Linked DNA regions of Homo sapiens. The protein of the gene in region 1 purifies or fractionates together with the protein of each later gene. This does not show direct contact. Each region holds a gene or a part of one and is shown in the gene's direction. Other genes may lie near its edges.

Region 1 (4,297 bases):
CACGCACTTTTGCAGAGCTCTCAAAAGTGTGGGGTTAGAGCAAGAGCTTCTCTGGCCCAGGTCTAAGGATGGAACCAATTATGTAATTCCAGTTTCCCCGATTAGCTCTAATACTTATTTTTACTGTTGGTTTATTCAAATCAGGACCCACACACTGCATTTTGGTTAATATATCTCTTATGTTTCTCTTATTCTACATTTTTGATTTATTGATGAAAGCAGGTCATTTAACACTAAAATGAGCCATAATCTAGATGAAACAGATTGTTTTCTTGTGGTGTCACTTAATATGCCTGTGTTTCTTGTATTTCTTGTGAACTGGCGAGTAGAGCTAGAGGCTTGATCACATTAGAAGGTGATCTCTGGATGTCCTACTTTTAGTAATGCTAAGATTGCTTAGTGGTTCAGGTGTCAGACTTGTTCCTCTGTCATAAAGTTCTTCATTGGTATTTACCCTGATGATTTGGGGGTTCATTAATGATTCTTTCTTAGAGTCATTATTTCATTAGGGGTTACAAAATGGTGATTTCCTAATTTTGTCATTCCATCTGCATTTAGTAGTTCTCTAAAGAAGAACTGCCTCATATACCAGTTCATTTAGTTCATGAAGGAAAGGAAAGATGAAATTTGGATTCTTAAACTTTTACTAGTTTTCAGAATAATGAGTTGATGACTGAGCTTTCTCTAGTGATAACAATGGTAACCAACAGTTTATTTTTAGTGTTATTATGGATACTTATATATTTGGTTCCAATCCATTGCCACCATTATTCTCTTTGCTTGAATTGGCCAAATTAGGTCGATGGTGGCTGTTTTTGGTAGAGGATCCTGTTAGTTTTTCTTTCCTACTTTCTGGCTCAGTGAAATGGCTCAAGTTATCTTGTATTTATTTTTCTGGCCAAACTTACAATTTGACATTTTTCTTTTCTTTTCTTTTTCTTTCTTTTTTTTGAGATGGAGTCTCGTTCTGTCTCGCAGGCTGGAGTGCTGGAGTGCAGTGGCGTGATCTCGGCTCATTTCAACCTCCGCCTCCTAGGTTCAAGTGATTCTTGTGCCTCGGCCTCCCAAGTAGCTGGAATTATAGGCATGTTCCACCACGCCCAGCTAATTTTTGTATTTTTTAGTAGAGATAGGGTTTCGCCATGTTGGCCAGGCGGGTCTTGAATTCCTGGCCTCAAGTGATCTGCTTGCCTTGGCCTCCTAAAGTGCTGGGATTACAGGCGTGAGCCACTGCACCTGGACACAATTTGACATTTTTCTAAGGGGGACTGGCTCCTTTTAGTCACAAATGGTATTTAGAGACAGTGGCAATGCTAAGATCTTAACTGCTGCTGGATTGCCGTTCCTTCTGGGCCTTTCTCAGTGCAACAGAGCTACCTGTATGCACACATTTGTGTGTGTGTGTGTGTATTATGAGTTCTTACTAATACTTTAAATTCAAATTTAAGATTATAAGGTTTCTACTCAATTTTTAAATTTTATATGTATATCTGTTTTCTTATGCTGAAAACCTTAGCTCCTACTTACATAAGAGTGCATCTTAAATTGTGATGTGTGTGAAAGTCATTTGGGGTAAAATCGGACATTTTTTGACCTCACATAGGTCTTCTCAGTTCACATTTATTGGGTTATGACCCAAGAATTTGCTGTTTTAACAGGTGCCCCAAATGATACTGACCGAAAGGCCAGGAATTATCCTTTGTGAAACTATTCTATAAGAACTATTGAGGTATTAGAGTGGTGGGTATTTTTAATCCAACACTTTGACTTTTCTCAAGTAATGGTTTCTTTAACACATATCAGCAAAACTGTGAATTCTGGAGAAGTATTGTGGAATGTTGGAGGAGCACAGGAGCTAGTCACAAGTCCAGAGTTTGAGTTCTGGCCCTGTTGCTGGCTAACTTTAGGACCTTTGGGAAAAAAAATCCTATAACCTTTCTAAGCTTTAGTTTCCCCACCAGAAAATAGGTACAATAATGCCTGCCTACCGCAGAATTTTTATGGAGACCAAAAGTGAAAGTACTTTGTAAAATGTCAAGTGAATTACAGATACTGCATTTTGGGGGGTCAGCTAGTCTTTCTTATAATAAGCTTTAAGCAATGTCATGCTTTATTTCAAAAGGCAATAATCTTTCTTTCTTTCAATAACCTCCCAGTAAAGTAAGTTTACCTAAAGTATTTTTCTTATTTCTAGGAATGAAGGATATATCCCAAGTAATTACGTAACGGGAAAGAAATCAAACAACTTAGATCAATATGAGTAAGTAAATGTTTATTTTGTGAATGTGGAAAATCAGAAACTTTTCATTTTCCTAATTATGTAAGGCATTTTGAAGATTAATGGATATCTTTCATGATTCTTTGAAGGGGGTGCTAAAATATCCTTAACTCAATTGCCTGATGTGGTAAAAGACTGAGAATTAATCTCTATAATATATTTTTCCTGAAGGTACTGTGTGAATGGAGTTACATAGGCTTATGTACATAAATTACATAAGCATAATTGAATTGATTTGAAATAAATCACAGATTAGCTGACTTTGAAATACAGATCATGTCCATTCATTCAGGACATAAGCAGAACAGTTTCCAGAGTGGAAATGTTAATAAGAAAAAATTACTGAAATTAATTAGAGTTGACCTTTGTCAGCATTAGTATATTTCCTTTCAATCTTTTTACTATTTTTGAAAAGATAGAATCATGCTTATTTCCTCATACACTTTAATATTCTTTGAAAACATTTTCCTAGCTACATTTTATTTCATTTGATCATAAATTTATTAAATATTTACTGAGATCTTAGCATGTATCAAGCATTATGTATGGCCTTAGAGACATAACCAGGCAGATGGCACGTGGATGTCCAATAATTTATGTAATCATTTCCTTATTTGTGTGGTTTAGGTTGTTTTAGGTACCTTTGCTATATTAAAAAAAAAATGGGATAACGTCTTGTTTCTTATCTTAAACTGGATCTCTAAAATCTATGTGCTGGGCTACAGGCTGTACGTGAACATTGTTAGGGTTCCCAACGCATGCTGTCAAATTGCTTTCCAGATAACTTGTATTATTTATATACCCACTAGCAGTGTGTGGCCAAGTTGTAACGTGAGGCTCATATACATTGAACGCTCTTTTATGGTCATTCTGAGGTGGTGTATTGATGCTTCATTCACTTCCTTGAAAACAATAGCAACAACAAGCTGTTCCTCTCTTCATGTCACTTGCTATACCATAAGTGTACCTTAACATCTAGGAAAGGGTTAACAAGTTCAAAAAGCCACAGCGCTCAGTGGATGTGATCTCTCAAAGTAATTTTAGAAGTAGAAGAGAGTATAAACAATGTATAAATAAAGTAGCATTTCTGCCCTTAAGTCAAATAGATTTTTGGAAAAATTATAAAATCCTTAGAATTAGGGAAGGTGCTAAAAGGTGAAAACTTGGGCCTGGTTTTAAAGCGATAGCGTGGAGAACTGATTGAATTTGGGGAAAGAGGATGCTTGGAAGCCAGATAATCCTTATCTAAATATGAGAACTCCTTTTATGACTCATGTGATTTCAGTTGAGGTTTTTCAATATTGAAGTTTATGATTCATGGCCTCGAGTGTTTCAAATGTACCTTAATTTGGAAATTTTCTCTCTTCCAAGAAATTTTCTTCCTCTGCATAACTCTGTACTTCAGCCTCCAGCGTGGGAGTGCCACTGCATTCTGTTCAGAGGCCAGGGAATCCACATGGCCTTTGTACCATGCCCAGTAGATGACCAAGGGGAAACCTGTTCCCATGTGGGCAGGCAGAGACCCTATTCTGTCTTCCTACTCCATGTTCTGTTTTGTTTTGTTTTGGCCAAAGCCCACCCTGTAACACAATTGTATTAGTCAGGGTTCTCTAGAGGGACAGAACTAATAGGATAGATGTATATATAAAAGGGAGTTTATTAAGGAGTACTGACTCACGATCACAAGCTGAGGTCCCATAATAGGCCGTCTGCAAGCTGAGGGGAAAGGAAGGCAGTCTGAGTCCCAAAGCTGAAGAACTTGGAGTCCAATGTTCGAGGGCAGGAAGCATCCAGTACGGGAGAAGGATGTAGGCCAGAAGACTAAACCAGTCTAGTCTTTCCAAGTTCTTCTGCCTGCTTTTATTCTGGTTGTGCTGGCAGCTGATTAGATTGTGCCCATCCAGATTGAGGGTGGGTCTGCCTTTCCCAGTCCACTGACCCAAATGTTAATCTCCTTTGGCAACACCGTCATGGACACACCCAGGAGCGATACTTTGCATCTTTCAATCCAATCAAGTT
Region 2 (4,880 bases), on another chromosome or scaffold:
AGTCTTTGTGTGTATTTTCCCCCGTCCCTCTCAAAAATTAAGTGAAGCACAGCACATCTGTAGGCTACCTGAGAGGTGCAGCGTGGTTGGTTTTCTTCACAGTTGCTAAACGAAAGGCCTACTCTTCTTCAGTGAGATTTTTTTACTCTCTAGAACAGCAGTATCCATAGAAATATAATGGAAGCCACGTAATTTAAAATTTTCCAAAACATTCTCATTTTGACATGTAAGCAATATAAAATTAATGAAATACTTTACATTCTTTTTCTTTTCAGACCACGCTTTAGAAATCTGGTGCATGTTCTACACTTAGAGCAGACCTCAGTTCAGACTAGCCACTTTTCAGGTGGCCAGTGACTACTACACTGGACAGTTGCAGCTCTAGAAAATCCACTCCCAAACCCCTAAGTGAACTACATACTCTATCAATTTGTAGCTTCTACTCTATCTCATTTGTACCATTGTTTCACAATTTGGATAGCATTAGAGTTAATAAATTTTATTTTAGCAACTCTGCTCCATGGGTAGTTTCTGAAATAAAAATACAAGCAAAAAAAAAAAAACTTTCCTAATAACACTGGTTCTACAGTATAAGCTCTCCCTCGAATGTCTAATAGAGCTTTCGTAGAAGTGAGTGTTCCTTGTAGGAACGGTGAGTCGAGACTGGAGGTAAGAACTAAGACGTTCTTAAACCCTACTACGTGCTGGAATCCTGAAGTGCCTGCCATCATTCAAACTTAAGCACTAACTCTCTAGAGAGACACTGCCATTCATACCACAGAACGAGAAGGCAGTGGCGATCCTCAACGGCTACATGTCACTGCCTGGTGAGCACTCTTCCCTCAGACCCCATTCCCAGAAGCTCTGCCTCGATTCCCCAGGGGTAGGCGAGCTGGCTGCCCGAATTCCTAAGCGTTACCGGGGAGATGTGAGGGCCTCCGGGGGCGGGAAACCTCAGGCCAGGCGCGCGCTGGCCCGCTCTACGGGGTCTCTCGGGAGCGCTTTGCAGGGCGGATGACTGACGGGCCAGCTACCTGCCTTCCTGAGCCTGCAGAGATAAACAGCCTATCCTCCCTGTGCACACAGGCCCCGAGGGCGGGCAGGTCTCCAAGCGCAGCACAACTGCCCCAGGCCCGACGCAGCCACCTGCCCGAGGGCTCCCTCCCCACCAGGCCATCCCTCAGCCGGTCCTCCTCCGACAGCGAACAAGGAACCCCGGAGGCGCGGAGGCGTCTCGCCGCCACCCGGCGGCGCCTGCCAGAGGCCCTTCGCGATGTCCGCAAGCAGAGAAAGCCCTGCCCTCCCAAGCCCCGGCTTCCCCTAGGCCCCTCGACACTTGTAGTGTCCTCACTTGCGGCCCCTGACCCGGGGCTGACCGGTTCGTGACTCTCCTGCCAATCAGAGACAGAGTTCTTCCGGCCAACCGGCCAATCACCGCGCGCGGGTGTCCGCTTCGGCTTTTCGGCCCTTCGGCTCTTCGGCTTGTCGGCGTTCGCGGTTGTTTGGCCATCCAGTGCCTTCAGCAGCGCCGCTAAAGCGCAGTTCTCGTTGGTGTAACTTTTTCTTTTTTTTTTCAGCCACTTCCGGCTCCTGCGTCGCTCCGGAAGCCTGCGAGTTCCGGAAGCCTTGGTAATCCAGATTCGGCTAGGAAAAGACAAGCTTTCCAGAGAATGTTTCAGAGAAAGTTACGTGGAGCGTGGGCGTTTCGCAGACTCCTAAGGTCAGTGTCTGCCCTAGAGAGCCGGAGTGCAAACCCGAGGTCTTGTTTTCAGCTGGGAGGTCGTGGAGTTTCACGACCTTGTAATTGTCGCCGTTTGCTTTTTTTTCCCTGTTTATTGGCTTCCTGTCTCCCTGGAAAAGGCAAATCAAAGCTGCTGAATTTTGGGAAAGGCAGTGAAGCAAACCTAAACTCCTAAAGATGTTTTTAGGATCGCGGCATTAAAAATAAACACACACACAGCTGCAGTTGAGCCCCTCTGCATTCCACGTAGTAACTTAAGAGACGAACTTCGAAATCTTTTTCTCTCATTTGGCGGTCGTGAAGATATTTACCTCTTATAAACGGCTTTATAAAGAATTGAGGATCCAAACTTTACTTAATATCTGAAAGTTCATGTAAAGTGTTATATGTAGTACAAAAAATTTGAGTGCTTAGTTTTCTAACACTGTTGAAAGCGCACGTAAATGCAGTTTGGTTTTCTTATGGAGGAAGAGATAATGAAAAGTTTCTGATAAAATTGCTTGCGATAAATTAGTTATATTTCACGTTGACTTTTGATAAGAAATCTGAATGTGAGAATTGTTAACATTTTTTCCTGGGTTCTTAAATTAAAAATCGTTGTTTGTTTATTTATTGAGGTACCATTTTCCAAATTTCCCACATTTAGTGAAAGGGCTTTTGGCAAAATGAGCAAGCTGTTGAACGTTCAAGTCTAACACATTCTGTTAAACTTCCGTGATGCCCCTCGGAAATATTTTATCTTGACGTTTCGGACAATTAAATGATACTTGGGCGCTCACAACACCGCAGCTTGTAGTCTAAACACCTTCCCCTAAAGTGTTACCTTTACTTAATCCTGAACAGAATGAACTTGGGGTGGCTCTTTTAACTTATCTGATCTCACCTATATTATCAATTACTTGTTTCCAGAAAGATTACAGTTGAGTGATCTTGAGCCAGAAAGAGATTTGAAAGAATTATTTACAGAGTCAAAAAAAAAAACCCTTCATATTTTTTTCTTAAAAAAAAAAATAGAAGTAACAGGACATAGAGCGAATACTAGACTAGTAGACTGAAGAGTATTAGACTAAATCAAGACAGTTGGATTCTAGTCCTGACTCTAGTTGCCTTTGTACAATTTTACCTCTTGGCCGTATTCTCCTTATTTTTAGAAACTAGTGTTAGTACTCAAGCTGGGGTTTTAAAACTGTTCCATAGGAGAACTTGTGTAGAAATTTTCTGGAGCCGTGCAGGGAGAGACAAAGCAAGCCCACCCTCAGGTTTATTTTAACAAGAGCAGCCATTTAGGTGTTCCGCTTGAATAACAAGGTTCTTGTTAAGAAGATTAAATTTATGTCTTAAACGAGATGATCTGCCTTTTCTTCTAGCATTAAAATTCTGGTTTTTGGGATAATTATTCATTTGTACTCAATGTACATTTATTACAGTTTTTAAAAATAATATATTCACAGCTAATTTATTTCTAAAAGCTACAAATATGTCCCTATTCTGTTTCAATTTATTTTATCAATACAAATTTGAAATGTTTTTCTTTATGAACAGAATTAGAATTTATTATTCCTTCTTCTCCATATCCTTTTATTTTAGCCATAAAAGTTTTGCTTATATTTGATGCACATAATGATTCTTGCCGTAGGGAGGACAAGTATTTTTCATTTTACATATTTGGTACCTGAACGTTAAAGGTATTAGCAGGCTTGCTCATCATCACACCCATTAAAAGAGCTCAGTCCTAGCCCCATGTTTTTCTCACAACATCAAATAATTGTAAGTTTCTTTCCCTCTTGCACACCATCCACATTCTCAGGTTCCAATAGCACAAGGAAAATGTGTGAATGTACACAATCTTTATTTCTGGCCAGAAGTTCTCTCTTGAATTATTTCATTTTTTCCTCTTTTGATGATCTGAGTTGGACAACCTAGAAGCAAATTGGATGTTCTCTGTACCTCTTTTCTGTGAAGTGATAACAGTTTGTAAATGTTTCATGTTCCTTTTCTATTCCTTTGGAATGTACAAGAAACCTCAGGAGAAAAGCCCTAAATTGCTCCATTTGCCCTGTCTGTAATCCTGCTCTTTTAAACCCAGCCCTGTAGTTTCTTTACATGGAAGTGGAGGCAAAGAAGGGATGTCTAGTGTCCTCTGCCTTTCTCCGTGTGGGATATTAGACTTCTTCCTAACATATTCCCATCTATACAATAAAAATACCTTCTTCTATGTTGCTTCTTACTCAATTTAATATATTTTCTTTTTATCAGACATCTCCCTTATTACTGCCTGTCAATAAGATGAGATAAAATTCCATCCAAGTTATCTTTTCTTTCTTCTTACTAGTAAAACAACCAAGAACTTAAGTGTAATGGTGTTTTGATTATGCCTAACCACTGTCTTTTCATTTTTTTGAGACAGAGTCTTGCTGTGTTGCCCAGGCTGGAGTGCAGTGGCACAGTCTCAGCTCACTGTAACCTCTGCCTCCCGAGTTCAAGCAGTTCTCCTACCTCAGCCTCCCGAGTAGCTGGGATTACAGGTGTGCACCACCACACTTGGCTAATTTTTGTATTTTTAGTAGAGACAGGGTTTCACCATGTTGGCCAGACTGGTCTTGAACTCCTCACCTTAGGCGATCTGCCCACCTCGGCCCACTTGTCTTTTAGTGTTAGATGAATGAGTTGGCATTACCTCTACCTTGCATGTATGTGTTCGTAATAGTTAATGTTCACACCTTGAGTTTTTCACTCATCTATTCCTTTTGTTCAGATTTGACATGGTTCTTTGAATGGTCCTTTGACCACATGTATAGTGAAGCAGGGAGAAGGAATATAGACAAAATACATCCCAAGCAACAAGGAAAACTTTACCTCATTCCTTTAATTTCTTTCCCCATCTACAGTCCTGACAGCTTGACTGGCAGTCTGGTCTTTTGAATGATCTTGAAGGGGAAAAAGATTTCTTTTGAGTTCTGTGGGATTAAATTTGATCCAAGCTTAGCAAATGTCCATTCTACTAAGTGTATTTTGTATGTTCTACAGTTTTTCTGATGTTTACCATAAATTTACTTATTACCAGCTTGACTTTAGATGGGTTGTTAATCTTCTCAAGCCTTAATTTTTATCTTCTTAAAATGGAGATGATAATACTGTA
Region 3 (4,297 bases), on another chromosome or scaffold:
CACACAACAGGAGAGAGGAGAAAGAAGAAACGCTAGTAATTCCAGTAAGGCTTTTCAGCAATTTAATTGTGGGAGTGAGGTGAAGAAATCATTTTTGAATCAAGATATCTGTTTGGGGCAAGAAATGGTGTCCGTATGAAGAGCACAAAGATAGACCACGCCTCCACTTAAAATTATATATGTGTATGCATGTGTATACCATCAGGAGAGAATAGGTCACGTCTTCTCTGGTGGCAGGTGTCAACAGTAACAGCCTTTTTATAGGTTCAGAACTTTTGATTGATAGACATGGCCATGTTAGACAGCACTTTTCAATAGGAGAAAAGCAGCTGACATTCTACATGTTAACAACATAACTGTTTTCAGGATCATAAACTCTTGTTCTAAGATAGGACTTAACTTTTGTGGAATATTCAGATCTTTAACACTTTTGTAAAAGCTGCAGGCTACTCATAAGCAAACAGAATGAGTGGATGATAATAACATTCCTGTCTTGTAAACAAATGTTCGGTCCACTTTAATACCTTCTCTTTCAGGACAAATGATAGTACGTGTTTATAAGAAATTAGTGCTGTTAGTCTAAGTTCTGTTTTCTCCCCTGTTTATGTTAAGAATGCCCATGTTGTATGCCTCCGTGACCTTATTTTTAATTTGATGTAGAGTAAATTTTCCTGTGGGAAACTTTTATATCACCTAGCACTTTAAAAAAAGGAGACATTCATTAGGTTTATAAGCAAAAGGTAAGAGATAGAAAGGGCACCAGTTTACCCTGCTCCTCATTCCCCAATTCTGTCATGGTCTAGGCATTCCTTTCCTTGGGGAAGATGTGATTGTAGTTCTTATAGGCAATAGCTTGTTGCTTAAGGAGACTCAGAAAGGTTAGGTTTCAGGATACCATCCCAAAGAAAGGTAATAACTGCAGCTGCTCGTTCACTAAGTAGGTTGTGGCTCTTTTGTAACGCCCCAAATCCCACCACATCTCTGTCATAGAGAACCAACTTCTTTATTCCTTCTTCCTCAAGGCTTTATTGGTAGTAGGGACTTATTGGCTCACTTGCTTCTATAACCTATTGAAGGAGAGAAGGGGTTCCTTAGTGGCTCAACTTGTTTATCTAAGGGAGAAAATTCTTAGTAAAGTCTTGCCTGGCTTGTATTGACCAGTACAAGACTAACTTTTGTTGTTGTTGTTATTGTTGTTGAGACGGAGTTTTGCTCCTGTTGCCCAGGCTGGAGTGCAGTGGCACGATCTCGGCTCACCGCAACCTCCGCCTCCCGGGTTCAAGCGATTCTCCTGCCTCAGCCTCCCTAGAAGCTGGGATTGCAGGCATGTGGCACTGTGCCCGGCTAATTTTGTATTTTTAGTAGAGCCGGGGTTTCTCCGTGTTGGTCAGGCTGGTCTTGAACTCCCGACTTCAGGTGATCTGCCTGCCTCGGCCTCCCAAAGTGCTGGGATTACAGGCGTGAGCCACCGCGCCCGGTCGTATAAGACTAACTTTTAATCCTTAATTCATTTTGAGTAAAAGCAATCACTAATTGGCTTTTTAACAGGATAAGGCTCTTAAATGGACACTTCAGTGACCTTTGCAGGGACAGCTGAATTGTATTTAAAAACAGAAGTGTGGTTGGTTTTCTGAAGAGCTATGAAAAAATATGGATTAGTCCCATATACTTTTTTTACTTTAATTTGTAACACACCACCAAATTCGAGTAGATTAGAAATAATGAATAACCCCTAGAAACAGTGTAAGACAGTGTAAAAAGGCAGTATAGAAATGATTGATGCTTGAGCAGGCCCTGATTTTGACATGAAAGAAAGATGGTGGTGCTGTTGTGGAAAGTAGCTGGGCAAATGTCATGTAGTTGAGAACTACTGCAACCAATGAAAACACAGCACTCCTCTAAAAACAGAGTAATTTCTCTTTAAACTCTTAATCGTGTATGTGATTGACTACTTTTCAAGATTTGAAAAATATCTCACAAAGGTAAATTCATTTAACACAAACTGACCTTGTGTTTAACCCCAAACTTCTAAGGATAAATATCACAAAGGTACCTTTTTAAAAACCTAAAAGACTATGTAGATTTTACTACAATTTTAAGTAATTAATAATGTAATATCCTTAAAAAACATTAAATTGTACACTTTAGGTGAATTGTATGTGAATGATGTCTTAGTAAAGCTGTTTTCTTAAAAATATACTCTACAGCAAAATAACATCTTTGCCCATGTTTGTGCTACTGAGAAACTCATTTTGGAAGCCATAACATCTTGCTGTGTGTACACTGCCATATGTAGCCTTTACTCATGCTCCTCAGAGGCTTCCAATTCAGAGAGCTTTCTCAGTGAGCCAATGAGGATGCACATTCCAGCTTTGTGCCTCCTCCTGGGCTGAGGATAGGGCAGGTGGTGAGGTGCACAGAGATAAATAACACATGGCGGTTGTCCTCACGTTATGAACTGTTTGGTCAAGGAGAGGAAACAAGCATAAGAACCAGTCAGAGAATGTAGGCTAGCAAGCACATGTTTGAGTAGATTGCAGCGTGTGAAGAAGGCGGGAAGTTCACACAAAGGGAAGTTCTAGGACAGTGATCAGAAAGGGCTTCATGTCGGAGGGTAGGAACCGAGCTGGCCACCAAGTGGTGGGTACTGTTGACAGGAGAAGGAACATTTTCAGTCAGGCTGCCGAGACAGTGAGCACTGTGGTTCCGTGTCAGGCACATGCGCGCCAAGTAAAGTGTTTTGCATTATTACATGACTGAGGAATGAACTTGATTTGCATGGTCATATAGAATAACTGAGAAATTTGGATACACAGAGTAGGCCTTGATTTTATAGGTCCTTGAGAACCAGGGCCTTAAATACAGAGTGAAAAATTGAGACCTGTCAGAAACTCAAGAAGGTCACATGAAAAACTATTAAAGGAGCTTAATCTCGCCATGGGTATGAAGGTTGTAGTAGATATAGACTAGCTATATGAGCGGTTGCAGTCATTTATGTTTTGGTTAACTATAAATGAGGTGATGCCCCAAAGAATAGAGTGAAATCACTGTATGTAAGAGATTTCAAGGGGACATAGGACAGAGCAAAATGATTTATAACCACCCGAGGATTTAAGATTGCCAATTCATACAAGGGCTGTGCCATTACTAGAGATTAGGACATTATCTCTAGTTTAAGAGGAAAATGTTTAATTTTGGTTTGAAATTTCAGGCAAGTGGAGTTAAGAAACTCTGGGATTTGAATCCCAGAATCTCACTTACTGATCATTCTCAGGCAGGTGGGCCATTTAAACTTTCCTAGTTTTTGTTCTTTTGGTAAAACATGGTGATACCTCATGGGATCTGAGGGATAAATGGAATAATTTGCTAGAGAAGGCATTGTGATGTATTATAGAGAGTTACTTTTGGGTTTATGATGGAATATACATGTTTAACATATATACAACCTGGAGCACAGGTGAGAGAACACAGAATGTAGTTGTAATAGTTTCCTAGGACTGCAGTAACAAATTACCACAAACTAGGTGACTTAAAACAACAGAAATTTCTTCCTTCATGGTTCTGGAGGTCAGAAGTTTGAGATGAAGGTATCAGCAGGTTTGGTTTTTTTCTTGGGGGCTTAGAGGGAGAGGCTGTTGAATGGCTCATTCCTAACTTCCGAAGGTTACCGGTGATCATTCCTTGGAATTCCTTGCCTTATAGAGGCCTCACTCCAGTCTGCTGTCATCTGCACATGGCATTCTCCCCTGTGAGTCTCTGTCTTCATGTGGTCTCGTTATAGGACCATGGTCCAGTAAGACCTCATCTTATTATAGTTGAGAGGACCCTATTTCAAATATGGTCAGTCTAAGGTTCTGGATGGACATTGATTTGGGGGGGACTTCAACCCGGTACACTAGTTAAGAAGAATTTCCAAATAAACCTAACCATTGTGCAATTTCTTTTTCAAGAGCACTGGAATTAAGTTGCCTTCATCAGTGTTTGCTTCAGAGTTTGAGGAAGATGTTGGATTGTTAAATAAAGCAGCTCCAGTTTCAGGTATTTTTAATTGCTTTATCTTTTCATATGGATAAATGTATTTTGCAAAACATAAAGAAATGATGTAGGATTTTTCTATCCCCAGTAAAGTATTGAAACAATTGAGATATGTCTGGAATTCAGATCAGGGATTATTAGGAAGGGATGAATGTGATCTTTGTATTTTTGTATTCCTACCATCAAATCTTTATATCTTTTGAGTTCCTGTTTGGAGAGGAAAGTGGGGAAACTATTCTTGGTAATCTAGTTAGGGGAATTG
Region 4 (4,297 bases), on another chromosome or scaffold:
GGCGCCTCATGGCTTCCAGGTACACATTCCACCACATGGACACATTTCAGAACTGTTATCTATAGCTAATTGAAAAGACTAAAGAATTAAGCTCTTCTCATGGAAGAAAGGAAAGTAGGACTTAATGTCCTGACCTTGATTTGAGAACTATATTGTTGTAGAACATACTGAAAGGTACATGTTTAATAGCTTGGGAAAAATCTTAAAAAAAAAAAAAAAAACACAGTTTTTGAACCTGGCCATGTCACTGAGTCTAGTACATGACAAACCTAGGAAGTTGGTAGCAGAACACAGGGTCAAAATAAAATACAAGAAATCACTGTAGCCTGATAATCTGCAAGACACACCAAGCAGACAAGTGGTAAGACAGTGGGAAGTGTGCACACATTTAAAGCAACAATTCTGAAATGTGTCCATGTGGTGAAGTGTGCACCTACCTGGAAGCCATGAGCACCCTGCAGAACACCTGAAACATTGATAAGTGTAAATCTGTAATAGAAACTGAGAACATCAGAGCTAAATGACAACTTAGGAACACAAAGGAGGAGACAGCAGACACTGGGGGAGGGTAGCAAGAGAGAGAGGAGCAGAAAGATAACTGTTGGGTACTGGGCTTAATTGGGTCCTGGGTGATGTAATAATATGTATGACAAACCCTCGTGGCAGGTGTTTAACTGTGTAACGGACCTTCACATGTACCCCCAAACCTAAAATAAAAATTTAAAAAAGAAAAACAACCTAAGAACAATTTTATACCTATCATGTTATTTAAAAGTTAGATATACCATATAAAATTTTAATTCCAAATGTGCTTTGGACATTTGTGTGTGCAACAACAAAAACAAGCCTAATAAACTGAGTTTGGGGGATTTAAAAAATATTTCTTCATCCAAAGGGAATATTTACCTGCTATTTTGGTGGCAGGCACTAAAAATTAAAGTAGTTTCTGGGAGCAAAATTCAAAATTGAGAAATTTTCTTCATTTGATTTTTTTTCTGTCAGTGAAAATTAGTTTATTTTAGTGATAGACTGTATATTCCATGAAAGAGTGGTATAAGAGTGCTATAAAAAGCCTGGGATAAAGCAACAGTGAGCAAGAAAACAAACTGTTAATGAGTTTTAATGATAAAGAGTTTTTGCTGGCCTGAAAGTGTCTGCAAGGCAGTCATCGATTCCCTATAAGCGAGGTGGACCCTCCACTTGGAAGAAGGCATTTCACTGTACCTTACTTAGATGAGGATGCGGGGACAAAAGTTTACACCTCTCTTAATGAGTACAGCCTTATGGACACAAGACAGTCTGGATCATAACAGGCCACTAAGTAGGCTGTACAGTCAGATGCAGCAGGTTCTCAGGAGCCAGTCAGCCTTGCTGAGCACTGGTAGTGGTATCTACTGCAGTGGTACTCTGAAACAGCAGTACCAGAAGGTACTAGAGGGAGAAAGCAGAGGCAGAGAGTGTGCAAGGGCCACCATCAGAAATGATCCAGGCCTCTTGGACTGAATCCTAATAATTCATTCAGTCATTCAGTAAATGTTTGAATTCCTGCTATATCAGGCCCTGTTCTGATAGCTGGGAATATAGTCAACAGTAGACCTCATCCCTGCTTCCATGGAACACATATTGAGAGAGCTTATATTATAATTGGGCCCACAGATAAACCACTTCATTAAATACTAAGAGAAAGCTTCACTAAATTAGTCTATTATGCAAATAATTTTAAAGACAATTTAAGTTTTACTTCAAACATAATTCAGTCTGGGTTAATATTCGTATGCATTTGCATTCTCTGTCCACAGTAACTCCTGCCTTCAGGAGGCATTCTAGAAGGATTCAGCTCTTAAACTGTGTGCTGTGGTGGTTACCTACCTGTTCACAATGCTTTTGATGTTGTTCCAGTAAAAGAGTGATCTGTAGCGTTTTGTTTTCCTCAGTATTAAGCAGACATTAATTGTCTTCATTTCCATTGGCAGAGCTTTTATCTCAGTTATCAGGAGTGAGACGTTCTGCAGGAGGACAGCTTAATTCCTCTGGCCCTTCCGCTTCTCAGTTACAACAACTGCAGATGCAGCTGCAGCTAGAACGGCAGCATGCCCAGGCAGCACGGCAACAACTGGAGACCGCACGCAACGCAACCCGGCGTACTAACACAAGCAGTGTCACCACTACAATCACACAATCCACAGCAACAACCAACATAGCTAATACAGAAAGCAGTCAGCAGACTCTACAGAATTCCCAGTTTCTTTTAACAAGGTAGCTCATTTGTTAATAGAATTTTGTTTGGGAAGTAATATTTTATTGCCACTACAGTCTGGAATTATCTTTTCTCTTTTGTGCATTATATTTCTTTAAAATTTTGTGTTTGATTAAAACTCACAGATCTCTGATTAAAACGCATATTCAGTATTTCCCCAAGAATGTGAAACATAGTAATTATTTTAGATAAATTAAGAATACTGGGCCAGACCCAGTGGCTCACACCTGTAATCCCAGCACCTCACACCTGTAATCCCAGCACTTTGGGAGGCCAAGGCAAGCAGATCGCCAGAGCCCAGGAGTTCCAAACCACCCTGGGTAACATGATGAAATCTTATCTCTACAAAAATGAGCCAGGTGTGATGGTGCGCACCTGTAGTCCCCGCTACTCAGGAGGCTGAGGTGGGAGGATCGCTTGAGCCCTGGAGACAGAGGTTGCAGTAGCCAAGATTGCACCATGCACTCCAGCCTGGGTGACAAGAGTGAGACCCTGTCTCTAAAATAAAATAACTGGTCTTGTTCTCAAGGTATATATCATCATATAATATGAATTGTTTTGCCATAGTACCCATAAAACTTAAACACTATATCATTATATATATATGGTTCATATTAGGTGTATTTATCATAATTAACGTTGCTTGTTATTGCCAGTTTTAATCTGCTTTGAAATATTAAAAGTATAAGAAGGATTTCATAATACAGTGGCAGTTTTCTCCTGTGAATTTCTAAAAAAGCTAGATTTAAATTTTTATGGTTGGCACACAAAAGTAACTTAAAAAAATGGCTTCCTATGGTATAAATAATATTTAGTAAAACAGTAAACTACTCTACTAGATGGAGTTCTTGTTTGCTTCTGAAACTGTTAGCAACTGCATGTATTTGTCTGCCAAAACTTCACAGGCATTTTATGTGACTTTTAGGAATATAAAGAATTCTTAAAAGAGCAATGATGAGTGGAGACTTAGCCTCAACAGATAATGAACCTGGACTAATTGGGCTTTTAAGGGAGCAGAGAGGAACATAAAGGAAGAACTGTAAAATGAAGAATAAAGTTTGTGTAATACATGATTATTTCCAAAATGCAGTGTGTATGACAATTCATTGGGATGTTAGAGGAAAATATTATAATTTCTACTTATGTTTCTTTTATCTCATACTCTGTTAATACAGTGGTGCATGTGTATAGTTATAAATAACATATTGTGGGTGCAGAATAAAAAATGCTTGAAAATCCCTGGGCTAGAGCCCCAGCTTTGCCAATTACAAGTTTTGGACCTCAGGCAAGTCATTTCACTCCTCCAAACCTCAATTTTATCATCAGTATCCCAGAAGTTTTGCCTTTAGAGAGATAATTATTTTGAGGATTAAATGGAATACTGGTATGTGTATGGTCTGGCTCACTATCTGGCCTATAGTAAAGGTCCAATTAATGGTACTCGTTATCAACATTTGTTATGAAACCAAGAAAAACATTTTAAATGGGTAATTTACCTTTGAATTATCTCTGCAAGGTCAGTAACTGTGCCTGGTTATTACCAGATAATGCTGCTTTAATGTAAGAAAACCACAGAGCCACAGATGGAGCTACCTGCTGCCATGTAGCCTTCCCCATAGGGACTGACCAGCAGCAGGTCTATAACATACCAGATCTAAGTCCCTACCTCAAAAAGGAGATCTACTAGCGTGCATTTCTACTGAGAGTTCACAGAACTGTGGGTGGAATGTCTTGCCAGTGCCCTTTGGAAAAGACATCTTCCTACCCACCCTTGCCCTATCCTTTTTTTTTTTAAGACCCAAACTACTCAGCTTGATCTGTAATTTTTTTCTGTGCATTTATTCCACACCCAACTCTCAGAGCATGGTATGAGTGACCTCTGAGTGCTGTCTGTGGATTCTGGTTGTAGCTTCTTGAAATCCCCCTTCTATCATCTGATACTGTACATTCTATGGTACCATGCAGTTTGCAAACCACTTTCCACATCTTTTATTGTATTATATTCATATGATTTATTTAAGGCAATATTTCCCCAGAAAT
Region 5 (4,297 bases), on another chromosome or scaffold:
ACTGCCATAGTCCAGATACCAAACACTTTATCATCTCGAGTTTCTTCTAACCCTCTGCAATATGTCCCTCCACCTCTGTCCTCAGGCAGCCATTCATTTGCTTTCTGTCTCTATGTGTTAGTTTGCTTTTTCCAGAATTTTATATAAGTAGAGTCATCATACAGGATATACTCTTGTCTAATTTGCTCAGCATAATGATTTTGAGGTTTGTTTTTTTGTGGGGGAGGGTTGGTGGAGGGGAACAGTGTCTTCTGCTGTTGCCCAGGCTGGAGTTCAGTGGCACGATAATGGCTCACGGCAGCCTTATCACCTGGGCTCAAGCAGTCCTTCTGCCTCAGCCTCCTAAATACCTGGGACTACAGGTGCTCGCCACCACACCCGGCTGATTTTTAAGTTTTTAGTAGAGCCAAGGTGTCACTAATGCCCAGACTGGTCCTGAACTCCTGAGCTCAAGTAGCCCTCCTGCCTTTGCCTCCCAAAGTGTTGCAATTACAGGCTTGAGCCACCGTGCCTGTCTGAGATTTGTTCTTATTATTGCAATGCATTGGTAATTAATTCGTTTTTATTGCTCAGTAGTATTCCCTTGTATGACAGTATTTGTTTATCCATTCACCTGTTTATTGTGTTGTGTTGTATTTATTGTGATGTATTGTACTGTATTGTACTGTATTGTATTGTGATGGAGTCTTGCTCTGTCGCTCAGGCTGGAGTGCAGTGGTACCATCTCGGCTAATTGCAACCTCTACCTCCCGGGTTCAAGTGATTTTCATGCCTCAGCCTCCCAAGCAGCTGGGATTACAGACACATACCACCATGCCCAGCTAATTTTTTCATACTTTTAGTAGAGATGGGGCTTTGCCATGTTGGCCAGGCTGGTCTAAAACTCCTGACCTCAGGTGATCCGCCCGCCTCAGACTGCCAAAGTGCTGGGATTATAGGCGTGAGCCATCGCACCCGGCCCCATTCACCAGTTTATGAACATTCAGGTTATTTCAGCCTTTGGCTATTATACATAAAACTGCTAAAAAAAATTTGGGTACGGATCATTTCTTTTGAGAAACTGCCTGGTCGGATTGCCAGATCTTACGGTATATTGTAACTTTCTAAGAAGCTGCAAAATTGTTTTCCAAAGTGTTTGTACCATTTTACATTCCTACCAGCTATCGATGAGAATGTCAGTTGCTTCACATCCTCACCAGCACTTGGCATTGTCATTTAATTTTAGACATTCTGAAGGTTTGTCAACCACAGTGACTAAAAATGTTAGGCATCTTATGTGCTTACTATTTGTATCTATTCTTTGGTGAAATGTTGGTACAAAAATTTTGCCCATTTTTTAGTGACTTTTAAATTATTTTTATATGGTTGTAAGGAGTTATTTATATATTCTAGATATAACACCTTTTCCTGCTATGTGTGTTTCAGATATTTTGCTCCAGTTTGTGGCTGGCTTTTTTAGAGGTGTCTTTTTTTTTTTTTTTTTTTTTGAGATGGATCCTTGCTCTGTCACCAGGCTGGAGTGCAGTGGTGCGATCCCAGCTCACTGCAACCTCCGCCTCCCGGGTTCAACTGATTCTCCTGCCTCAGCCTCTCAGGTAGCTGGGATTACAAGCGTGCGCCACCACACTCGGGTCATTTTTGTATTTTTAGTAGAGACGGGGTTTCACCATGTTGGCCAGGCTGGTTTCGAACTCCTGACCTCAGATGATCCACCCACCTCTGCCTCCCAAAGTGCTAGGGTTACAAGCATGAGCCACCACACACGCCCAGAGGTGTCTCTTAAAGATTGAAAGTTTTAAGTTTTATTGAAGATCTCATTTAGAGAGTGCTGTTGTTGGCCAGGCACAGTGGCTCACGCCTATAATCCATTACTTTGGGAGGTCAAGGTGGGCGGATCACCTGAGGTCAGGATTTTAAGACCAGCCTGGCCAACGTGGTGAAACCCCGTCTCTACTAAAAATACAAAAATTAGCCAGGAGTGGTGGCGTGCGCCTGTAATCCCAGCTATTCTGGAGGCTGAAGCAGGAGAATCACTTGAACATGGGAGTTAGAGGTTGCAGTGAGCCGAGATCATGCCATTGCACTCCAGCCTGGACTGCAAGAGAGAAACTCCGTCTCAAAATAAAAAAAGTGCTATTGCTTGTCAGTTGGCTTGGTAGTCTGGTGGGAGTGGGCGCAGCAGGGTCTCTGCTGTCTTGTCTTAGTGTTTCCGTGTCTCAGGAGTGCACCTGATCAGGGCTTTTTTCCCGGGGCAGCCAAGCTGTGCCAAATGCCTTGTACCTTTAGTGGGGATTATGCAGAGGATGTTTCCCACCTCTCCCCCGGTAGCTGGACTCCTCCCTTCCTCCGGCTGTAGGGGTCTTCTCTGTGCCCTGGAGTGACAGGGTTTGCTATCCCTCCCCTAGCAGCTTAGCCTTCTCCTCCATCAAGAGAATGTGTCCGGAATTGGTGGGTTCTTGGTCTCACTGACTTCAAGAATGAAGCCGCGGACCCTCGCGGTGAGTGTTACAGCTCTTAAGGTGGTGCGTCGGGAGTCTGTTCCTTCTGATGTTCGGATTTGTTCGGAGTTTCTTCCTTCTGGTGGGTTCGTGGTCTCACTGGCTCAGGAGTAAAGCTGCAGACCTTCGCAGTGAGTGTTACAGCTCTTAAGGCAGCGCGTCTGGAGTTGTTCGTTCCTCCCGGTGGCCTCGTGGTCTCGCTGGCTTCAGGAGTGAAGCTGCAGATCTTTGCGGTGAGTGTTACAGCTCATAAAAGCAGCGTGGACCCAAAGAGTGAGCAGTAGCAAGATTTATTGCAAAGAGTGAAAGGACAAAGCTTCCACAGTGTGGAAGGGGACCCGAGTGGCTTGCCACTGCTGGCTAGGGCAGCCTGCTTTTATTCTCTTATCTGGCCCCACCCACATCCTGCTGATTGGTAGAGCCGAGTGGTCTGTTTTGACAGGGTGCTGATTGGTGCATTTACAATCCCTGAGCTAGATACAAAGGTTCTCCATGTCCCCATCAGATTAGTTAGATACAGAGTATCGACACAAAGGTTCTCCAAGGCCCCACCAGAGCAGCTAGATACAGAGTATCGATTGGTGCACTCACAAACCCTGAGCTAAACACAGGGTGCTGATTGGTGTGTTTATAAACCTTGAGCTAGATACAGAGTGCCGATTGGTGTATTTACAACCCCTGAGCTAGACATAAAGGTTGTCCAAGGCCCCACCAGAGCAGCTAGATACAGAGTGTCGATTGGTGCACTCACAAACCTTGAGCTAAACACAGGGTGCCGATTGGTGTGTTTACAAACCTTGAGCTAGATACAGAGTGCCGATTGGTGTATTTACAATCCCTGAGCTAGACATAAAGGTTGTCCAAGGCCCCACCAGAGCAGCTAGATACTGAGTGTCGATTGGTGCACTCACAAACCTTGAGCTAAACACAGGGTGCCGATTGGTGTGTTTACAAACCTTGAGCTAGATACAGAGTGCTGATTGGTGTATTTACAATCCCTGAGCTAGACATAAAAGTTCTCCAAGGTCCCACCAGAGTAGCTAGATATAGAGTGTCGATTGGTGCATTCACAGACCCTGAGCTAGACACAGGGTGCTGATTGGTGTATTTACAATCCCTGAGCTAGACATAAAGGTTGTCCACATCCCCACCAGACTCGGGAGCCCAGCTGGCTTCACCCAGTGGATCCTGCACCGGGGCTGCAGGTGGAGCTGCCTGCCAATCCCATGCCGTGCGCCTGCACTCCCCAGCCCTTTGGTGGTCGATGGGACTGGGCGTCGTGGAGCAGGGGGTGGCGCTCCTCGGGGAGGCTCGGGCCGCACAGGAGCCCATGGAGGGGGTGGGAGGCTCAGGCATAGCGGGCTGCAGGTCCCGAACCCTGCCCTGCGGGAAGGCAGCTAAGGCCCGGTGAGAAATCGAGCGTAGCGCCAGTGGGTTGGCACTGCTGGGGGACCCAGTACATCCTCCGCAGCCACTGGCCCGGGTGCTAAGCCCCTCACTGCCCGGGGCCGGCAGGGCCTGCAGGGCCGGCCGGCTGCTCCGAGTGCGGGGCCCGCCAAGCCCACGCCCACCTGGAACTCCAGCTGGCCCGCAAGCGCCGCGCAGCCCTGGTTCCCACTCGCGCCTCTCCCTCCACACCTCCCTGCAAGCTGAGGGAGCCGGCTCCGGCCTTGGCCAGCCCAGAAACGGGCTCCCACAGCGCAGCGGTGGGCTGAAGGGCTCCTCAAGTGCCGTCAAAGTGGGAGCCCAGGCAGAGGAGGTGCGGAGAGCAAGCGAGGGCTCTGAGGACTGCCAGCACG
Region 6 (4,297 bases), on another chromosome or scaffold:
CCAGGTTCCAGCGATTCTCCTGCCTCAGCCTATCGAAGCGAAGTAGCTGGGATTACAGGTGCCTTCCACCACGCCCAGCTAATTTTCTGTATTTTTAGTTGAGATAGGGTTTTACCATTGGCCAGGCTGGTCTTGAATTCCTGGCCTCAAGTAATCCACCCACCTCGGCCTCCCAAAGTGCTGCGATTACAGGCTTGAGCCGCCGCACCCGGCCATTAATTTATATTTTCAGTACGATACATATCATCCCCCCATACTAAACAAATCAACCCAAAAATTTTGATTTCGCTTAATTTCGCCTAACAAATATCTAACATGTATATAGCACTTTATAGATTAAGTGTGTTACTATTTTCTGTGCAGTGGGCAGGAATTATAACTTCTACAGATGGAAAATGGTCTCTTATTGAGAAGTTTTTTGTCAAAAGATAACCGTCAAAAGGATTCATGTCCGGGTTTCATCACTGTGTAGTCCCATACTGTTTATCACTCCATCACAATTTGAAGGCTGTCTGAAATATCCATGAACTCCACTGGTAATTCATGGAGTTCAACTCTCTTAACCACCCTCCTCCCTGACCCATGATTTTTACCCTAACAGCCATGAGAGTTTCCAAAAATGTTATGTTTTACTTTTCTAGTGTATGTCAAAAGACATTTTGTACTGTTTTAAAATTACTATTCTTGCTATTCAAAGAATAAAAAGTATTGTTTTTCAGATGATGGGTGGATCATGCTATAAAATGGTAACAAAGTTTTGGAAATAATAGCTTTAGATTATTCCAAAAAGAAAAAAAAGAAAGCCTTTCTTGAGTATAAATTGTTTTTATGAGTTCAAGGTTACATTGGCCTCATCTTAATAATTAGCGATGATTCAGATATTTTGGAATAGCTTTATATTTTTATTTATTTTTCTTTTTGAGACAGAGTGCCACTAATATTGCCCAGGCTGGTCTCTTAACTACTGGCCTCAAGCGGTCTTCCCACCTCAGCCTCCTGAGAAGCTGGGATTACAGGTGCACACTACCAAGCGCGGCTTAGAATAGCTTTTTAGAAAACCTAAACTTTTTATGTTCTGCAACTCTCCTCATATTGAAACGTTCATGTCCAACTGTTTTTCACCTTTTCTAATGAAAGTATTCTCCAAAGAACAAATTGGAATGCTTCCAATTATAGTTGTTCCCCCTTATCCTAGGGGGACACATTGCAAGACTCCCCAATGAATCCCTGAAACTGAAGTCTGTATACACTGCCGAAGCCTAAGTATACCATGTTTTTTAGATCTAATAACCAAGATGGGCTGATAGCGTATACAGCATGGATACACTGGACAAAGGGATGATTCACGTCCTAGGCAGGAGGGGGCAAACTTTCATTTTGCTACTCAGAACATGCTCTTGCCCCATTTAAAACTTAGGAATTGGCCAGGTGCAGTGGTTCATGCCTAATCCCAGCACTTTGGGAGACTGAGGTGGGCGGATTACTTGAGGCCAGGAGTTTGAGACCAGCCTGGCCAACATGGTGAAACCCCGTCTCTACCAAAAATTAAAAATTAGCCGGGCGTGGTGGCACGTGCCTATAATCCCAGCTACTTGAGAGGCTCAGGTAGGAGAATCACTTAAACCTGGGAGGCGGAGGTTGCAGTGAGTCAAGATCACACTACTGCACTTTAGCCTGGGTGGCAGAGCGAGACTCCATCTCAAAAACAAAACAAAAAACTTACGAATTATTTATTTCTGGAATTTTTCATTTAATATGTTCGGACCTTAGGTAATTAAAACCACAGATAAGGGGGGATCACCCTAACATGAACGCTGTTTATTCTAGGAATGGAGAGCTGGTCACTTTACTAAGACAGTGCCGTAGAACAGAACTTGTTACTAATTCCTATGCTTAGGGCTTTGTTTTTTAATCACAAGATTCTAGCACCTCCCCTATCTTCCAGACTTGGATTTTGAACTTTAAAATTTTGAAGTAGTGTTGTGAATCAGTTGAATATTATTAACTTGTAGAATAATTTATGTAATTCCATGACTAGGTAACTGTATAATTCTGAAAACCTGAACAGTCAAGGCCATTTGGTTCACTTTGATTCTCAACTCCAGAATTAATATGAACTTTGATACAGAATCATTTTCTATTTCAGAAAGGCTAACCCTGTTTAAAAAGCATGTTAGCCTTACAACTTACCGTATATTTTCTACACTGTTAGTCCTAAAAATTTTATTGTGTGATGTGATTGACGTTAAACCTTAACATGGGAATGGGTTGTATGTGGGTTTTTTTGTTTTTTTGTTTTTGAGACGGAGTTTGCACTGTCACCCAGGCTGGAGTGCAGTGGCTTGATCTCAGCTCACTGCAAGCTCCGCCTCCTGGGTTCGCGCCATTCTCTTGCCTCAGCCTCCTGAGTAGCTGGGACTACAGGTGCCCACCATTATGCCTGGCTAATTTTTTGTATTTTTAGTAGAGACGGGGTTTCACCTTGTTAGCCAGGATGGTCTCAATCTCCTGACTTCGTGATCCGCCCTCCTCGGCCTCCCAAAGTGCTGGGATTACAGGCGTGAGCCACCGCGCCCGGCCATGTTTTTTGATATTCTGAATAAAAAGGATATAGCAGTTGGGATAGGCTTGGGTTCTTGTCCTTTATGTTCTTGTCCTTTCCTCATGATAATCAAATCATAATTAGAAATAAGATGCTAAGAATACAAAGGTGGCTCTATGTTAATACTGTATTGATAGGTCAAAGGAGAAAAAGCATGAGATCAATTCATTAGATACTGAAAAGTCTTTTGAGGGAATTTAATGTCTTCTTGCTTTCTTTATTAACAGAATAGGAATAAATAATAGCATAGGCATAAATTAAAAATAATGTAATTTTTTAAAATCTCAAACTAAAAATGGGAATCATACTTAAACATTAGCATTCCCAGGAGAGTTGGAGCAAGACCTCTGTGCCCACTATCACTCAACATTTCATTATTTAAGTCCTAGCAAGTGCAAAACAGAAAAGATGCATAAATATTAGAGAAGGAAAGTTATTTTTTGCAAATGGCGTATTTTTTATCTGGAAATACCAGAGAATCAAGTGAGAAACTTTGAAGAATAAAATAATTCAGTAATGATGCTTCCTACCCTAGGTTAATTAATATAAAGAAGAGTTAAATTCCTATGGCATATTTCTGGTAACAAAAACATCACTAAACTTTTAAATAAAACCCAAAACACTTCTAGTATTAAACATTTAAATGAGCTGGGCGCAGTGGCTCACGCCTGTAATCCCAGCACTTTGGGAGGCCAAGGTGGGCGGATCACAAGGTCAAGAGATGGAGACCATCCTGGACAACATGGTGAAACCCCGTCTCTACTAAAAATACAAAAATTAGTGGGTGTAGTGGCCCGCACCTGTAGTCCCAGCTACTCAGGAGACTGAGGCACGAGAATCGCTTAAACTGAGGAGGCGGAGGTTACAGTGAACCAAGATCGCGCCACTGCACTCCAGTCTGGCGACAGAGCGAGACTCCATCTCAAAAAAAAAAAAAAATTTAAATGATTTCTACTAAAAATTTTAAAAATTAGCATGCCTATGGTCCCAGCTACTCAAAGGCTAAGGTGGGAGGATCCACTTGAGCCTGGGAGGTGGAGGTTGCAGTGAGCTGTGATCACACCACTGCACTCCAGCCTCGGTGACAGAGCAAGACCCTGTCTCAAAAAAAAATTGAATGAATGTGAGCTGTGTATACATTTAAGAAAGATTAATAAAAAGATAATTATTTGCCTCCCTCTTCCAGTTCAGGGTCTCAATGGCTGGAGCCTTTCTTGGCAATTCAGAGTCCAAGTTGGGAACCAGCCCTGAACTGGACGCCATCCCAGCACAGGGTGCTCTCACCTACACCCACGCTCACAGACTGGGCCGCGTAGACACATCCATTCATGTGCATCTTTGGGATATGGGAGGAAACTGGAGTACTTGGAGAAGACCCATAAAGATGGGAGAATGAGCCAGCTTCACACAGACAGTGACCTCAGCTGAGACTTTTTGTTTTTTCTTCTCATCAACATTATAACAAAACAAAGTTGAATGAAACGTCTTTCGAGGACCTGCTATAGACTAAAATTTTAAAACCCTGTCCCATATATGAACGAACAATTAGAAAATACAGTAGAAGAAAAGAGCCTATTTACAACCACAGGGAAAAGTTTAACAGAAATCCCTTAAAAGAAATGTATATAGGAGATCTGATCAAGAAAATAAACTACATGAAAAGGACAGGAACTAAACAGTCCTCTGTGTCTGCAT
Region 7 (4,297 bases), on another chromosome or scaffold:
TGGATCTGCTCCCACCTCCATCCTCCTGGTGTCTCTGTGGATCTGCCCCCCACCTCCATCCTCCTGGTGTCTCTGTGGATCTGCTCCCACCTCCATCCTCCTGGTGTCTCTGTGGATCGCCCCCCACCTCCATCCTCCTGGTGTCTCTGTGGATCGCCCCCCACCTCCATCCTCCTGGTGTCTCTGTGGATCTGCTCCCCACCTCCATCCTCCTGGTGTCTCTGTGGATCTGCTCCCACCTCCATTCTCCTGGTGTCTCTGTGGATCTGGCGACTCTGGGGCCTCACAGAAGTGGGTCATGTAGAATTTGTCTTTTTGCCCTGGCTTATTTCATGGAACATAATGTTTTCAAAGTTGTTCTCGTGTTTTTTATATTTAGGGTGAATCCTGGTTCTTTCGTTGGCTACCTGGAAAGAAAAAGACAGAAGCTTATTTGCCAGATGACAAGAACAAATCGGTGAGTGCTGTCAAATACGCACGGGACGTCCGAAGAATTGTAATGATTTTTCTGTCACTTTCAGAGCAGACCTGAGTAGGTGTTTCCTGAAGTTTTGAAGTGTCATCATTAATCAGATGCTAATTCTGTTTAGGTTCAGTCTGCTGACCTTTTTTCTTTTTAAAATCTTGGCAGATTGTTTGGGATGAAAAGAAAAACCAGTGGGTGAATTTAAATGAGCCAGAAGAGGAGGTAAATTGTCATTCTAGTTCCTGTTGGGTGTGAGGTGTGAGTGGAGGGAACAGCCTCATGTGGCCCTGTGATATTTGGGTGGCTGTTGCCCCTTTTGGAGCCTCCTGACTGTGCCATCCCAGTGGGTTTCTGTGCACACAGTGGGTGTCTGAAGCTGTGTTTCCCTCTGCAGAAGAAAGCCCCGCCCCCACCTCCAACCTCGATGCCCAAGACTGTGCAAGCTGCCCCGCCTGCCCTCCCAGGGCCTCCTGGAGCCCCCGTGAACATGTACTCTAGAAGAGCAGGTAAGGGTGGCCTTGGAGTGGGAGCTTGCTTGAACGATTAACTGTCCCAGAGAGAGAGGCCAATGTGTAGCTGTTGTGCGTGGGGAGGAGGTGGCTTCCCGCACGTCCCTGCGTGCTTTTCCTCTGACGCAGTGAGCGCAGAGCATTTGGAAGCTGGAGGCCACCTGGCGCGTTCACCTCAATTTGCTTCCCTCCCCTTTGCAGCAGGAACCAGAGCTCGCTACGTTGACGTCCTGAACCCAAGCGGGACCCAGCGGAGCGAGCCGGCTCTCGCTCCTGCGGACTTTGTCGCTCCACTCGCGCCACTCCCAATTCCTTCTAACTTGTTCGTGCCAACCCCAGGTAGGTAGCACGAGCACCAGCCCCTCCAGGTCAGCCCCCAGTCTCCTGACCTTTGATCCTCTTTCTATGAGTCTCTCCTAAATCTCCCGTTAAAAGAATGACCTGGCCAGCATGCAGAGAGCCTGGGGTTGGTTTGTGGTTTTTTTTTTGATTTGCCTGTTTCTGCATGAGTGTGCCGCGTGTGCAGTGTGAAACTCTCTTCCTCTCGGAGTGTCTTCAGTGAGACCCCAGGGACGTTCGGGACGGAATGATGGCCTCCTCGCTCTCTCATCCCCAGATGCAGAAGAACCACAGCTTCCAGACGGGACTGGCAGGGAAGGGCCTGCAGCAGCTAGGGGCCTGGCCAATCCAGAGCCTGCCCCAGAGCCCAAGGTGAGCGGGTACGGTGGGAAAGGGGAAAGGTACCCAGTGAGGAGGCACCTCCCCATCCTGCCAGACAGGGCCTTGCCTTCTGCAAGTCAGTATCCAATGTGTACGTAGAGTGTTCCGCCTTAAACGCCTCACACTTATGTATGGTAGAGACGGAAGGTAGAATGCAGGGTGCCGGGCGGGACAGAGCTGTTTGGGAAGACGGAGATCTGGGGATAGTGGCGGTGATGGTTGCTCAGCACGGTGAATGTGCTTAAAACTTAAAAATGATTAAAGTGGCAAATTTTACAGTATGTATATTTTACAATTTTTAAAATTGGAAAAAGTAAAATTAATTACTCTAAGTTACAGAGAAATTACCTACCGATAATAAAAGTTAAGTATATTTTCATCCAAAAAAAAAAAACAAAAAACAAATGACTCCCATGTGAAGTAGAACAGCTCAGACCAGTCGGGAGTGGTGGATGATGCCTGTAATCCCAGCTCTTTGGGAGGCTGAGCTGGGCGGGTCACCTGAGGTCAGGAGTTCGAGACCAGCCTGGCCAACATGGTGAAACCCCATCTCTACTAAAAAAAAAACAAAATTTACCTGGGTGTGGTGGCGGGTGCCTGTAATCCCAGCTACTCAGAAGGCTGAGGCAGAAGAATCGCTTGGACCCAGGAGGCAGAGGTTGCAGTGAGCTGAGATTGCGCCATTGCACTCCATCCCGGGCAACAGAGCCAGACTCCATCTCAAAAAAAAAAAAAAAAAAACCAGCTCAGACTGCACTCTGTACGGTGGGACAGGCCTGGGCCTAATCCTGTTCTCCATTCATCAGCTGTGTAAAGCATGGGGCAGTCACTCACCTGTCTAAGCCTCAGTTTTCCCCTCTGTAAAATGGGAATAACAGTAGCCCCAGATTGCAAGCCTGTCATGGGCACACACAGGCACCTGGTAGAGAGCTGCAGGGGTCTAGAGTCAACAGGGTTGTGCGGCTGGACCCACGTGTGAGGCACTTTTCACTTCTCTCTGAGGAGCACTTTACGTGGAAGAGGGCGTTTGTAACCCAGGCCAGAACAGTTTCATATTTTTTGGCCTGGTGTGAGAGACTTAAATTCCCTGGGATTTGGTTGCTGCAATTCTTCTTTTCCTCGGCAGGTTTTAAGCTCTGCAGCGTCACTCCCTGGCTCTGAACTCCCCTCCTCCAGGCCTGAGGGTTCCCAGGGAGGAGAGGTAAGGAGTGCCGACGCCAGGGCCCCCCGCAGCCCAGGCCTCCCCAGCAGCTCACTGTCCAGGCGCCTCTTCCTTTATGGAGGGGCGGTACTGGGTAGGAAGAGGCAGTTTAGAAACAAGAGCACCTCGAAGGTGGTGTTCCTGGGGGAAAAAAAATTGCACTTGTTTTAACAAAACTGTTTGGGAGCTCCAGGAGGGGTGCAGGGGGTTTGAGTTGTCGCCTCAGTCCCGGTCCTCTCCCTTCAACAGCACGGGAATTGTCTTGAATTGTGAGGTGTCAGGAGGTGAAGCTGGCTTAGGCCGAGGCTGGACTTTTCCTCCCAGCCCTCCCCTAAGCTAATGGTTGTTTCGGGATAACAGCTTTACATTAAGACAGGAATCTTAAGCTAACACTGGCTTTTTTTTCCCTTTTGAGTTATGTTGATTCTAATGGCATCACAAAGCTTTTGAAATGGAACTGACAGCTTGGATTGGACAGTGACGTGCATGTTGACTTTCGTCCGTGTTTTATGTGTGTTCTTGCTGTTTTGTAGCTTTCGCGCTGTAGTTCAATGAGTTCATTATCACGTGAAGTGAGCCAGCATTTTAATCAGGTACCTGCGGCTGGTGGTCCTCACTAACATGAGAGCTGGCGTGTGCCGCCTGTGTTCCTGAGCACGCGGTGCCGGTTCGCCACGTGCGCTTTGCCACTAACCTCGCCCGTTGTCTCCCTCAGCGTCACGTGACCAAGGGTACAGGGTTCCTTTTTTTTTTTTTTTTTTTTTTGAGACGGAGTTTCGCTCTTGTTGCCCAGGCTGGAATGCAATGGTGTGATCTCAGCTCACCGCCACCTCCACCTCCTGGGTTCAAGCCATCCTCCTGTCTCGGCCTTCCTGAGTAGCTGGGATTACAGGCATGAGCCACCACGCCCAGCTAATTTTGTATTTTTAGTAGAGACGGGGTTTCTCCATGTTGGTCAGGCTGGTCCCAACCTCAGGTGATCCGCCCGCCTCAGCCTCCCAAAGTGCTGAGATTACAGCAGTGTTCCTTTAAATGGCCTTAAAGGGGGTTTTGCTGTTCAGTCTCCACATACATGGGGCAACTGGATCGACCCTGAGGTGTCCTAGTCAATGAGTGGGTTCTGTCATTTTGCTCTTTCCAAATTGGTTTTTCCAATGACGGGCCTGGGTCGTGGCCTCGCCGAGTGAGTGTTTCCCCGGTCAGGATGCTCTCCTTTGGAAGGAAGATTGCTCCTTTCTGATCAAGCATGAGAACGTTGGTTTGAGGCCGGGGCGGGTGCAGCAGTGACCTGCGGCCAATGTGGGAGGGAGGTGAACGAACGCTTCATCTTCTGCCTGTCCAGGCACCAGCTGCAGCCGTGGCTCAGCAGAAAGGCTTGCAGCGACCCTTCCGCCTGCAAAT

What was found.
Region 2: the proteins of TEC (region 1) and PEX2 purify together in Homo sapiens (affinity purification with mass spectrometry, with the first as the bait; one large-scale study listed by BioGRID). This does not show direct contact.
Region 3: the proteins of TEC (region 1) and LTV1 purify together in Homo sapiens (affinity purification with mass spectrometry; one large-scale study listed by BioGRID and IntAct). This does not show direct contact.
Region 4: the proteins of TEC (region 1) and KCMF1 purify together in Homo sapiens (affinity purification with mass spectrometry; one large-scale study listed by BioGRID and IntAct). This does not show direct contact.
Region 5: the proteins of TEC (region 1) and RBM34 purify together in Homo sapiens (affinity purification with mass spectrometry; one large-scale study listed by BioGRID and IntAct). This does not show direct contact.
Region 6: the proteins of TEC (region 1) and MAPK1IP1L purify together in Homo sapiens (affinity purification with mass spectrometry; one large-scale study listed by BioGRID and IntAct). This does not show direct contact.
Region 7: the proteins of TEC (region 1) and SEC16A purify together in Homo sapiens (affinity purification with mass spectrometry; one large-scale study listed by BioGRID and IntAct). This does not show direct contact.

Annotation. Positions count from the first base shown.
Region 1 is NC_000004.12:48,161,665-48,165,961, reverse strand, and holds part of TEC (tyrosine-protein kinase Tec), read left to right. Parts: intron 1-2,194; coding exon 2,195-2,260; intron 2,261-4,297.
Region 2 is NC_000008.11:76,996,830-77,001,709, reverse strand, and holds the start of PEX2 (peroxisome biogenesis factor 2), read left to right. Parts: upstream 1-1,631; 5' UTR 1,632-1,720; intron 1,721-4,880. UniProt on the Homo sapiens protein: E3 ubiquitin-protein ligase component of a retrotranslocation channel required for peroxisome organization by mediating export of the PEX5 receptor from peroxisomes to the cytosol, thereby promoting PEX5 recycling.
Region 3 is NC_000006.12:143,846,181-143,850,477, forward strand, and holds part of LTV1 (protein LTV1 homolog), read left to right. Parts: coding exon 1-44; intron 45-3,950; coding exon 3,951-4,038; intron 4,039-4,297. UniProt on the Homo sapiens protein: Essential for ribosome biogenesis.
Region 4 is NC_000002.12:85,047,393-85,051,689, forward strand, and holds part of KCMF1 (E3 ubiquitin-protein ligase KCMF1), read left to right. Parts: intron 1-1,973; coding exon 1,974-2,256; intron 2,257-4,297. UniProt on the Homo sapiens protein: E3 ubiquitin-protein ligase which accepts ubiquitin from an E2 ubiquitin-conjugating enzyme and then transfers it to targeted substrates, promoting their degradation by the proteasome.
Region 5 is NC_000001.11:235,140,117-235,144,413, reverse strand, and holds part of RBM34 (RNA-binding protein 34), read left to right. Parts: intron 1-4,297.
Region 6 is NC_000014.9:55,054,229-55,058,525, forward strand, and holds part of MAPK1IP1L (MAPK-interacting and spindle-stabilizing protein-like), read left to right. Parts: intron 1-4,297.
Region 7 is NC_000009.12:136,444,244-136,448,540, reverse strand, and holds part of SEC16A (protein transport protein Sec16A), read left to right. Parts: intron 1-379; coding exon 380-457; intron 458-631; coding exon 632-688; intron 689-860; coding exon 861-972; intron 973-1,176; coding exon 1,177-1,314; intron 1,315-1,525; coding exon of another isoform or gene 1,526-1,591; coding exon 1,592-1,686; intron 1,687-2,821; coding exon 2,822-2,896; intron 2,897-3,429; coding exon 3,430-3,489; intron 3,490-4,297. UniProt on the Homo sapiens protein: Acts as a molecular scaffold that plays a key role in the organization of the endoplasmic reticulum exit sites (ERES), also known as transitional endoplasmic reticulum (tER).